Linked DNA regions of Homo sapiens: region 2 is linked to region 1. A link means that fine-mapping ties the variant in region 1 to the expression of a gene that starts in the linked region. Tissue or cell type: whole blood. Region 1 holds a variant in brackets; the other region holds the start of a gene. All regions are shown on one strand. Distances are from middle to middle.

Evidence for each region. PIP is the estimated chance that this variant, and not a neighbour inherited with it, causes the effect.
Region 2: it holds the start of ADGRA2, and the variant in region 1 is fine-mapped to the expression of ADGRA2 in whole blood (TOPMed, PIP above 0.99).

What each region holds. Positions count from the first base shown.
Region 1 is chr8:37,757,779-37,763,137 of GRCh38, forward strand. It overlaps ERLIN2 (ER lipid raft associated 2), which reads left to right. Exons shown (of 12, transcript NM_007175.8): 12 at 1-644. It overlaps PLPBP (pyridoxal phosphate binding protein), which reads left to right and starts at 4,867. Exons shown (of 8, transcript NM_007198.4): 1 at 4,867-4,980. The coding sequence starts at 4,882. It overlaps LOC124901934 (a long non-coding RNA gene), which reads right to left. Exons shown (of 2, transcript XR_007060889.1): 1 at 5,149-5,359; 2 at 1-5,035. RefSeq lists enhancers at 4,416-4,495, 4,596-5,055, 4,633-4,927, 5,236-5,295 and a silencer at 4,555-4,875. The variant A/G (reference allele first, on the strand shown) is at 2,605.
Region 2 is chr8:37,793,868-37,799,193 of GRCh38, forward strand. ADGRA2 (adhesion G protein-coupled receptor A2) reads left to right here and starts at 3,016. Exons shown (of 19, transcript NM_032777.10): 1 at 3,016-3,667. The coding sequence starts at 3,402. RefSeq lists enhancers at 1,446-2,011, 2,012-2,577 and silencers at 2,841-3,080, 3,091-3,260, 3,541-3,630.

The sequences.
Region 1 (5,359 bases):
AAAATCTATCCCCATTATCGATACAGAATTTGTGAACGTGGCATAATTCTTGGTAGGTGCTATAGAGATTTATCATTTTAAACAGTTCACACACCACTGCAATTCTGCTCCAAAGGACAAAGATATTTTCAAGTGAACCAAAATTCATTTTGATATCAGTTCAGTGGACGAACTCCCAGTCTTTACTCTGGAAAGCTGCCCAGCTTAGGGTTGCCAGATAAAACATAAGATACCTAGTTAAATATGAATTTCAACAATGTACAATTTTTAGTCTAAGTACTATGTGTCCTAAACACTGCATGAGACATACTCATACCAAAGTATTTGTTGCTTATGTGTAATTCATATTTAACTGGGTATCCTGTATTTTTACTTGTTAAGTCCGGCAACCCTAGCCCAGGCTTTCTCAGGTTTTTTTTAACAGGGATCCCAAGCTTTTTCTATTGGTTTGAGAGCCTGCTACACAAATAATATGATCTTAACAATTGAATAGTTATGTTAAGAGTGTAGTTACTGCAGTTAGACTGCCAAAGTTCAAATCACTGCTCTACTACTTCTTAGGTGTGTGGTCTTGAATAAGTTTTTTGACCTCTCTAAGCCTCAGTTTCTTCATTAATAAAATGAGTTGCATGGCTTATATGAAATAATGCATACGAAGGGCTTTCACACTGTACCTTGCATGTATGTATTCAAAAACTTCAATCTGGAGAAACGGGCTAAAAAACATACAGCTATTAAATGGGAGCCACTAAGTAGAAAGCCAAACACGTGAAAAAAAATGGAATAAGATTACAAATGGGATAGCACATAGAAGAAGGGAATGACATTGCAATGCAGCAAACACAGTATTGAGGATACATACCTCTACAAAAATGTTGTGTAGAAAATAACCTGGTTTAAAGAAAGAAAAGAAAAGAAAAGAAGCCAGGCACGGTGGTTCACACCTGTAATCCTAGCACTTTGGGAGGCTGAGGTGGGTGGATCACCTGAGGTCGGGAGTTCAAGACCAGCCTGACCAACATAGAGAAACCCCATCTCGACTAAAAATAGAAAATTAACCGGGCATGGTGGTGCATGCCTGAAATCCCAGCTACTTGGGAGGCTAAGGCAGGAGAATCACTTGAACCTGGGAGGTAGAGGATGCAGTGAGCCAAAATCACGCCACTGCACTCCAGCCTGGGCAACAAGAGCAAAACTCTATCTCCAAAAAAAAGAAAAGAATCTGATTTGGCCCTGTTGAGAGGAACTGTCCAGTTCTGGTCTCCAATTTTAAAAATGAAAAAAATTTGAAGAAGCTAGAAAGAAAATGTTAAAACCAAAAAGAAAAAAAAAGTAATTAAGAAATAAAGCTCATAGGTTGATGCCAGAAAAGGCAGAAGGGACATTTAATGACTTCACGATTATAAAAGTTACATACTGGTAGCTAAAAAGAGGAAATTCACTTGAATAAAGGAGGATTTGTAAAGAATTTACTTAAGATCAGGCTTGCTAAATTTTCAAATGGGGAGGAGTAGTTACTTGCAAATAGAAAATAAATATTCTTCTCTGATGGTCTTCAGAAATTGTGAAGACTCTGTGCTGTTTGGGATGGTTTAAATGTCATTCTTTCTGTATGAAACCTCCCTAAGTCTTCCCTAGGTCTAGGGTTCTACTATCTCTATAGACATTTCAAAGGCCAGATGTGATGGCATGTGTGCCAAGGGCTTGCTGTCATGGGCTACTCTACCTGAATTCATTTAAACTGGGATGGGACATGGGCATTATTTCTCCGTTTCTCTTTAGAGCTAAGTAACCAGGCAACAGTAATTTTCTATTTTACTTTTTACTTTTTTATCCCCCTAAAAGACTCACAGTAGGCTCAGAAGGAAACAATTTTTAAATCCATATATGTTTTTCTCATAATTTGGATTTATTCCAGACTATGAGGGTGTTTTAAAAGCTTGATGGCATTGATGGTGAATAAGTATACTAGATTTTAGATTATTTATAAAATCTGTTTCTCTGGGCATTTGGCTTTTTAATCTTTCTCTTTTCCCCTTGGTCCTTGCAAATTATTGGAGCAATTTAAAGACAATTACTGGTGATGAAATGATTTTGGACTTGTATTTTTCAAGGATTAGGTAGTAGGGGAGGATGAAAGGTTAAATTGGATGGTTGATGTCCCAGGAAGAGGAAGAGAAGAAATTAAAAAAGCAAATAAGGAAAAAAAGGGACAAAGTGAAATAAAATTAATTCAAAAGTACAACTAAGAAGAAATTGGAATGTGAAATGACCATGGGACTGGGGGCACCATGATCTTTTTGTCTCCATTTCCATTTTCATAAGACCACAGAATGTCAGAGATGAAAAGCGAGCATATTGGAAGTAAATCGGCAGTAAAGCCTGTCTTACTCAGCCTGGTCTCTCTCAGGGTTCTTTACAGAGTAACGCCTCAGTAAATGTTCACTGAATGGATAAGGGGGTGGGAGGATGACCTTGCCTTGTAGTTCAAAGAATAGAGGTCCCTGGCTGGGCACGGTGGCCCACGACTGTAATCCCAGCACTTTGGGAGGCCGAGGCGGGTGGATCACAAGGTCAGGAGTTCGAGACCAACCTGGCTAACAT[A/G]GTGAAACCCCATCTGTACTAAAAATACAAAAATTAGGCGGGCGTGGTGATGCACGCCTGTAGTCCCAGCTACTCGGGAGGCTCAGGCAGGAGAATCACTTGCACCCAGGAGGCAGAGGTTGCAGTGAGCCGAGATCGCGTCACTGCACTCCAGCTTGAGTGACAGAGCAAGACTTCGTCTCAAAAAACACAAAAAAGAATAGAGGCCCAATCTAGTAAATGAAGCTACAACTACTTGTTGTCATAGTGACGTAACACCTGGATTATACATTCCCTAGATCTGTGAGGTATTTATGGTTTTAAAATGTTTTCCAAATAGCACATTATTTGAAGTGTTTCATCTCACCCAATCCTTCCTCTACACATCCCATCACCATGATCCCCTCTGTCCTCCCCATCACTCACTGCTGGCTCGCTCCTTCCCACCTGTGTCTCTACAGCAAGCATCTATTATGCTCACACCACAAAGGGCCATTCTGGTCATTTTAAATTTTTTTATCATTTTGGTTGGAGTACAGATGTATCAAGTCTAGAGACATTTTATCTGAACACAATTACTCCTAATGTTGGCAGTCCTAGTTTGCAGATAACCCAGTTAATGTGTACCAGGGTAAATGACCAGAGACTTCCCAAAAAGAAGTCCCTTATTTTAAGGATCTGAGGTTCTGCCTAATGTGACTTTCCCAGAGCAGAAGATGTGAAATTCCATCTCTGTTCCTGGGAGTCTGGGGAAAAACTGTGAGAGGAGAGAGTAAGAATATTGCCCCTTCTTTCCGGAAAGCTCTAATAAACCCCATCACCTCAAGACAAGACCACCTGAAGAACAAACATTAGCCATTTCTCTAATATAATAGCATCCCACTTCATTAAGTTGAATTAATGTTTGAGAAACTTTCAACAGAAATTGCAGCCAAGAGTGCTTTCCTTAACAAAATTGATCTCCTTCTCCTTGCCCGTAGCACCTACTATTTCACCACCTGACTATGTAGCATTCTGTATTATTATTTGTATGGCCTGGCTCCTCATCAAGTTTATAACCATATTGCCCACAGAAGGGGACTCAAGAATCAAACTCAGGGCGTTGTGGTGCCCGTTTGTAGTCCCAGCTATTCTGTGAGGCGGAGGTGGGAGGATTGCTTGGGCCCACGAGTCCCAGATAATCTGGGCAACATAGCGAGACCCCATCTCAAAAAAAGAATCTAACTGAATGTGCTGAGCTCCTGCTAGACCATCTAAAGCTGCCTGTGGGCTGGGCGCGGTGGCTCGCACCTGTAGTCCCAGCTACTGGGGAGGCTGAGGCAGGAGAATCGCTTGAACCCGGGAGGTGGAGGTTGCAGTGAGCCCAGATCGGGCCACCGCACTCCAGCCTGGGTGACAGAGCGAGACTGTCTCAATAATAATAATAGTAATAATCATGCTGCCTGTGTCCCCTGATGAGACAGCACTGGCCGCAGGTGGCCGCTAACCTCTCGAAATAGGGATGGCCCGAATTGAGACATATGCAAGTCAACACTACACCGGGTTTCAGAAACACATACGATTTTCAAAAGAATTAAAATATCGCATTTAGTTTTTCTATTGATTGCATGTTGAAATCTTACTTTGGATATATTGGATTAAATAAAGTATATCATTAAAATTTTTAAGCTTATGTGCCTATGAGAAACTTCCAAATTACACAGTTGGATGGCGTTATATTTCTCTTGGACAGCAGTGGTCTGAAAGATGACAAAAATCACGATACGTTTGAATCACGCCATGTCTTTAGGGAAAAGAAGAAAGAAGAGTTTCCTTTCGTATCGCTTAGGGGTTCCTCGCAAGAACCATCTGACAGAGAAAAGCCCTGGCTCCCGCCCCAGTGGCTTCTAATTCTGGTCCCCGCGCCCAGAAAGCCGGGAACGGGCAAGCCTGGAAAGGCGTTTTGAAAGGAAACAGGATCCCCCGAGTATAGGATGCGTTTCTGCCTCACAAAAGTCCCTTGGGGGTGGGGGGACGGCAGCGGCTGAGGCGCAGGAAAGAGGAGAGCACACGGGGAGTGGCCCTTGGAACCAGGCGCGCAAAACCTCAGCCCCTAGGCTCCATTTCCAGGTTCGCGGGTGACCTCCCCAAGATGGCCGCCGCCTGGGGGCGGGCCTCCACGCTGCACGGGTGTTGATTGGGTGAGACGACTCAATGATGAGCAATGATTGGTTCACACGGCGCAAGCTGGGCGGAACCGGAAGATGGTGTGAGCCACGGGCTGCCGGGGGCCTGGGGCTCGGCGTCGGTCCCCGGGGGATGTGGAGAGCTGGCAGCATGTCGGCCGAGCTGGGAGTCGGGTGCGCATTGCGGGCGGTGAACGAGCGCGTGCAGCAGGCTGTGGCGCGGCGGCCGCGGGTGAGGAAGGAGGCTGCGTGGGGACGGTGGGCGGCCGCCTTGAGAAGAGGGACACCTGCGTGGGAATGGGTCGTCACGGTGACGCAGAGGGGTCTCCCAGAGAGGCGGGACTGGTCGGCCGCCTAGGGCCACCGAAAGGCTAGCGAAGGGTTTCCCCAGCCTCCTTACCTTGAGTCTGTTAGGTTTTCTGGAGATTGGCTTCGTTGGAGCAGAGGGTACCGCTACCTCGGGAAAATGACTTAGTGCCTAGGTGTCGTGGCCACTTGCGCACCGCGTCGTTTCGGGGTCGATAGCCTTGGCGGATGCGAGGGGGGCCAGGCCTGTGCCCACGGATGGTAAGGGGAGACGGGGGTACAAGAGCACCCCGCGGAGGCCAGAG
Region 2 (5,326 bases), 36 kb after region 1:
GCAATTCATTCACTCCTCACTGCACCTCTGAGGAGAGGTCTGCAGGAAGCTTCCCAGGGGAAAGTCTCCCTGTGGCTCAGAGAAGAAAGCACTTAAAAAGGAACCATGGCCGGGCACGGTATACTAGAAATAAGAAGAAAAAAGGATTAAAACATGCTCATGGCAGGTTGCGGTGGCTCACTCCTATAATCCCAGAACTTTGGGAGGCCAAGGCGAGTGGATCACCTGAGGTCAGGAGTTTGAGACCAGCCTGGCCAATATGGTGAAACCCTGTCTCTCCTAAAAATACAAAAATTAGCCAGGCATGGTGGCAGGCGCCTGTAATCCCAGCTACTTGGGAGGCTGTGACAGGAGAATCACTTGAACCCAGGAGGTAGAGGTTGCAGTGAGCTGAGATTGTGCCACTGCACTCCAGCATGGGTGACAGAGCTAGACTCCATCACAAACAAACAAACAAACAAACAGACAAACATGCTCATGGCCAGGCATGGTGGCTCACACCTGTAATCCCAGCACTTTGGGAGGCCAAGTCAGGCAGATTGCTGGAGTCCAGGAGTTTGAGACCAGCCTGGGCAACATGGCGAGATCCCCATCTCTACAAAACATTAAAAAAAATTAGTTGCATGCAATAACAAACCTGTAGTTCCAGCTACTTGGGAGGCGGAGGTGGGAGGATTGAACCCAGGAGATCGAGGCTGCCGTGTTCCTGCCACTGCACTCCAGCCTGGGTGACAGAGAGAGACCTTGTCTCACACATACACAAAAAAAGGAATCAGAAAGTAAGTTCCTACCCTTGGACTCTAGTCTCAGTGACTCAGTTTCTTCATCCATACTTGCAAAATAAGAAAGTAACCTCCACTTCATCACCTCCCTGGGTGGGTAAGAAGTCAAATGTGGTGACCCTCAGGACAGTCCAGTGTTTTGTAGATGTCTCCATCAGACATTTCATTCCTAGTGGTGGGGAAGCCTCGCCTCATTAAATGTCCTTTGGCCTCTGTTCAGCCTCCAGGAGTGGGTGTTCCAGTAGAATTCTTCTTTAGACTTTGAGTGTCTTCATTTAGCCAAAGGAAATCACAGAAAAGCTATATGACCCAGGCCAGAGATCTCAGAGTCTTCCTTGCCTGTGAGCAGGAGGGCTGCACAGCCCTGCCTATGGGCTGTGGCTCTGCTGTCAGCTCTTTCCTGAGGAATGCAGCCTGGGCCACCGCCTGTGAGGGCTCCTGCTGGGGGAGTCCATTCCCCTTCTCCCTTCCTCCATTTGCAATCACTATTTATTTATCTTTGGAAGTTCAAGGAACCAGAGAGCCTGCAACTGGGGGAGATCTGTGGAGCCAGGGAGGGAAAGTGAAGAAGCCAACATCTAGGCCCCTGCCTGCCGCCAACGCCAACGGGCAAGAGAAGAAAGCCATTCCCTGCATAGTCAGGGTAGACTTGGCTGACAGGCACAGGGGCCCTAGAAAAGGCACCACCGCACATCAGCAGGGCTAAGCTCACTAAAGAATGTGGCATTCACCTTGGGGACCGCTTGGGTGGTAGAGTGAAGGAGGGGGAACGGGAGTCCTGCCCCATCCCGGCAGCTCTATTAAGCAACAGAAAGGTGAGCTTCTGTGGGGAAACAGAGGAAGCAGACCCCTGGGCTGCACTTCTTACTGCCTGTCCCCAGCCCTGGTTCCGGTGTACTGCAGGCTGTTTTTTTTTTAATTAATTTATTTATTTATTGAGACGGAGTCTCACTTTGTCACCAGGCTGCAGTGCAGTGGCACGCTCTCAGCTCACTGCAACCTCCGCCTCCTGGGTTCAAGCAATTCTCGTGCCTCAGCCTCCCAAGTAGCTGGGATTACAGGCGCCCACCACGACGCCCGGATAATTTTTGTATATTTAGTACAGACAGGGTTTCATCATTTTGGCCAGGTGGATCTCAAACTCCTCACCTCAAGTGATCCGCCCGCCTCGGCCTCGAAAAGTGCTGGGATTACAGGTGTCAGCCACCGCGCCCGGCCTGCAGGCAGCTTTATACCCACCACTAGTTGTCAAGGTCACCCCTGCCACCACCAGTCCTCTGCCTTTGGAAACCATGTGCCCCTCCCCCCCACCACACTCTCTTATTCTAATGCCACGATTTACTGGGCATCTAATGCCACTCTATAAACTGGGGAGCAGGCAGAGCCCCATTTCAACCCCAGAGATCTGCTACCCCAGCAAGCTAGGGGCTGTGTCCAAGGTCAGACAGTAATGAGAGGCAGAGCCGAGTCTGGAATAGGGGTCTCCAGACTCACTGCGCAGTGCTCTTTCCACACCCTGCTGCAAAGCCCTGCTCCTTCTCATCTACTTTTCCCTTGTCCCACTCACTGTCCCCGAAACACACACACACACACACACACACACACACACAGCGTTGTGGAAAATGTAGGAGGCCCAGTCTAGCCTCTAGCCTTGTCTGCCTTGGCCTTTGACCTCTCCTTGGCCGAATGACATGCACCCCCCGCTGAGCGAGGTCACCGCAGCGGAGGAGGGTCTGCTGCCTCCTTGTCTCGGCTGCCATCCTCCTGCGGCTGCCTCCACCGGAGCTGGAAGGAGAGTGAGAGCCGACTTCCAGACTGATCATCGTGTCAGGGGCCAAAGGAAACCTCGGAGCCTTCCACCAAGTTCAACCCAAAACAGGGCGCCCCAGACGTCTCTGTCCAAGCCCGCGGGTCCAGGAGGGCCCCAGCAGCCTGGAGACGCAAGCTGCACCGGCACGGACGAGGGAAATTTTGTGGAAGGTGGTGGTGGTCGGCTCAGAGGTCTGAGATGGGTTGCGGAAAGGAAGGGTCCTGGCCCGGGGCGCGGGGACAAGCGGGAGAGGAGTGTTGGTGCAGGGCGGGCGCGGGGACGCAGGGTCCTCGAACCAGCTGGCCCGCCCCCACTCGGCAGAGGGTCTAGGCCTGGCCGCGTGTCGGTCGGCGCTAGGGCCCCGCGGAAGGCCCGGGCGGGCGGGGACCGGCGGCGGGAGCGGCGCGGCGCGGAGCTGCCTCCATCCATGGCACGGAGCGGCGGCGGCGGCGGCAGCAGGAGCCCGGCGCGATCCGCTAGGTCCCAGCCCAGCGCCCAGCGAGCAGGCGACGCGGAGGGGCCGGGCCTCCAGTGTCCCGAGGGCCGGGCGCTGAGACTCCGGCCGCGCAGCTGGGAGCTGCCCGCGCTGCGCTGACAGCCGCGCCGACGTCCTCCCCGCCGGGGCGCTCGCAGGACATGCCCCCGGGGCGCGGCGGCGGGGACCCCGGGGCTCGCCTCCGCCCAGGGCCCCCCTCCACGCCCTCGGGAGCCCCGGGCCCCCGCTGAGCACTCCTCCCGCACGCCTGGGTCCCTCCGGCCGGCGCGCAGCCCGGCCCCAGCGCTGTGGGTCCCCGCGGGGCGATGGGTTGATGGGCGCCGGGGGACGCAGGATGCGGGGGGCGCCCGCGCGCCTGCTGCTGCCGCTGCTGCCGTGGCTCCTGCTGCTCCTGGCGCCCGAGGCTCGGGGCGCGCCCGGCTGCCCGCTATCCATCCGCAGCTGCAAGTGCTCGGGGGAGCGGCCCAAGGGGCTGAGCGGCGGCGTCCCTGGCCCGGCTCGGCGGAGGGTGGTGTGCAGCGGCGGGGACCTCCCGGAGCCTCCCGAGCCCGGCCTTCTGCCTAACGGCACCGTTACCCTGTGAGTACCCTACCAGGCCAGTTCCGTCCGAGCCGGGACTGGGGACGAAGGGAGGCGAGACGGGAGGGGTGGGAGCAGGGGGAAGGGGGCTATCCCCCCACTTCAGAGATTTCTGGACAGGCCTGGGTTCAGGCCCCCAGAGGGGAAGATTGGAGGAGCAGGGGAGAGACTGGGGCTCCAGGAGCGTGGAGGCGGGAAGGGGCTGCGGGGGACAGGCGCACCCCAGAGAAAGGCACCGCAGGCGCCCACTCACCTGCACAGGTGAAGTGGAGAGCACGCCTGCAGGGCACCCACGCCCCGGATTTCCAGCCTGGACTAGGGTTGCGGACTTTGGGGACCTGAGAAGGGTGAGAGCGGGGAATGCTCAGGAAAGATCGACGCTCGTGGCCCAGGAGGGGGCTGTGGTCCTAACCACTACGGTCGCGTCCCGGACTGGGCTGGAGGAGTCTCCGGATTTACCTGGCTGGCCTTGTCCCTTCAATTGGGGTCATCCCATCCTTGCCCCCTGGCCTGCCAGCGCCGCTTCCAGCCGGTCTCCTTAGGGCAAGGGGAGGCTGGGCTCAGAAAAGTCGGCCCTTGGAATACCGGCGCTCCTGGGCTGCAGGAGACCCTGGCGTCCCCATCCCTCTAGAGGCCCCTCTCCCACGGCGCCGTTTGTGCAGTGAGCTCTGTGCTGGGTCCCGCGTCCTTGCCTCTCCTTTGCCTCTCCTGGAAGTAACTCGAGCTTTGGCTGTTTCTCCATTGACTTCGCGCAAAGATTGCGAAGAAAGAAACGCGGCTGGGGAAGCGGGGTTCCCTCACCGCAGCCCACCCGGGCCTCCTTCCGCGACTTCCCTCTTAGTCAGGGCCTCAGTACGCCTTTGCTTTGCTGGCAGCGAGCGCTGCAGCGCCGCAGCCCGACCCCAAGCCTCCTACAAGGGGGTCGCAAGTCCCAGCAGCCGCGCGAGCATTGGCGACCCCTCCCCACCGCAGAGATTTCCTGCGCCGACCACGTGCTCGCAGCTCCACGCACGCCGTGGATTTGAGGGTCGGGCCCCCGCGGCCGCCGCTTCCTTTCCTGTCCCAAATCCAGCCTAAGAGCCGCTTCCCTTTCCCTGTCCTCCTGACCCCAGTGGCAACCGTTTCTCCACCGCCCCTTGCCCGCAGTCGGGGCTGGCCCAGTCTTTTCGATTGTGTCCAGAACAATACAGTAACGCCTCTGGTTGGGTGAGTTCAGAGGCTGCCCGCTTCCTGACAGGACACAACTGGTCAGCCTCTGACGCTGGCCGCCCGGCCTGCATTTTCCCCGGCCCGGGTGTGTGTGTGCATGTGTGTGCCTTAAGGGTGGAGGCGGTGTGTCTGCTCGCTGCCGCCTCCCTGCTGCTCAGGGTAAGGCTGTGGCCAGGGAAGGCACCTGTGGCTGTTCAGGGCAGCTCTCTCTGACTGTCCGCTGGGGTTTGAGGGTCCAGGCAGGCCTGGGCATTCCCCAGCTCACTTAGTTCTGGAGGAGAAAAATGCTTGCTCTGCGGAACAGTCGGTAGCGTCTGCGTGAGTCCCAGCTGCATAAGAATTCAGAGCTGAGGCCGGGTGCGGTGGCTCAGGCCTGTAATCCCAGCACTTTGAGAGGCAGAGGCGGGTGGATCACGAGGTCAGGAGTTCGAGACCAGCCTGACCAACATA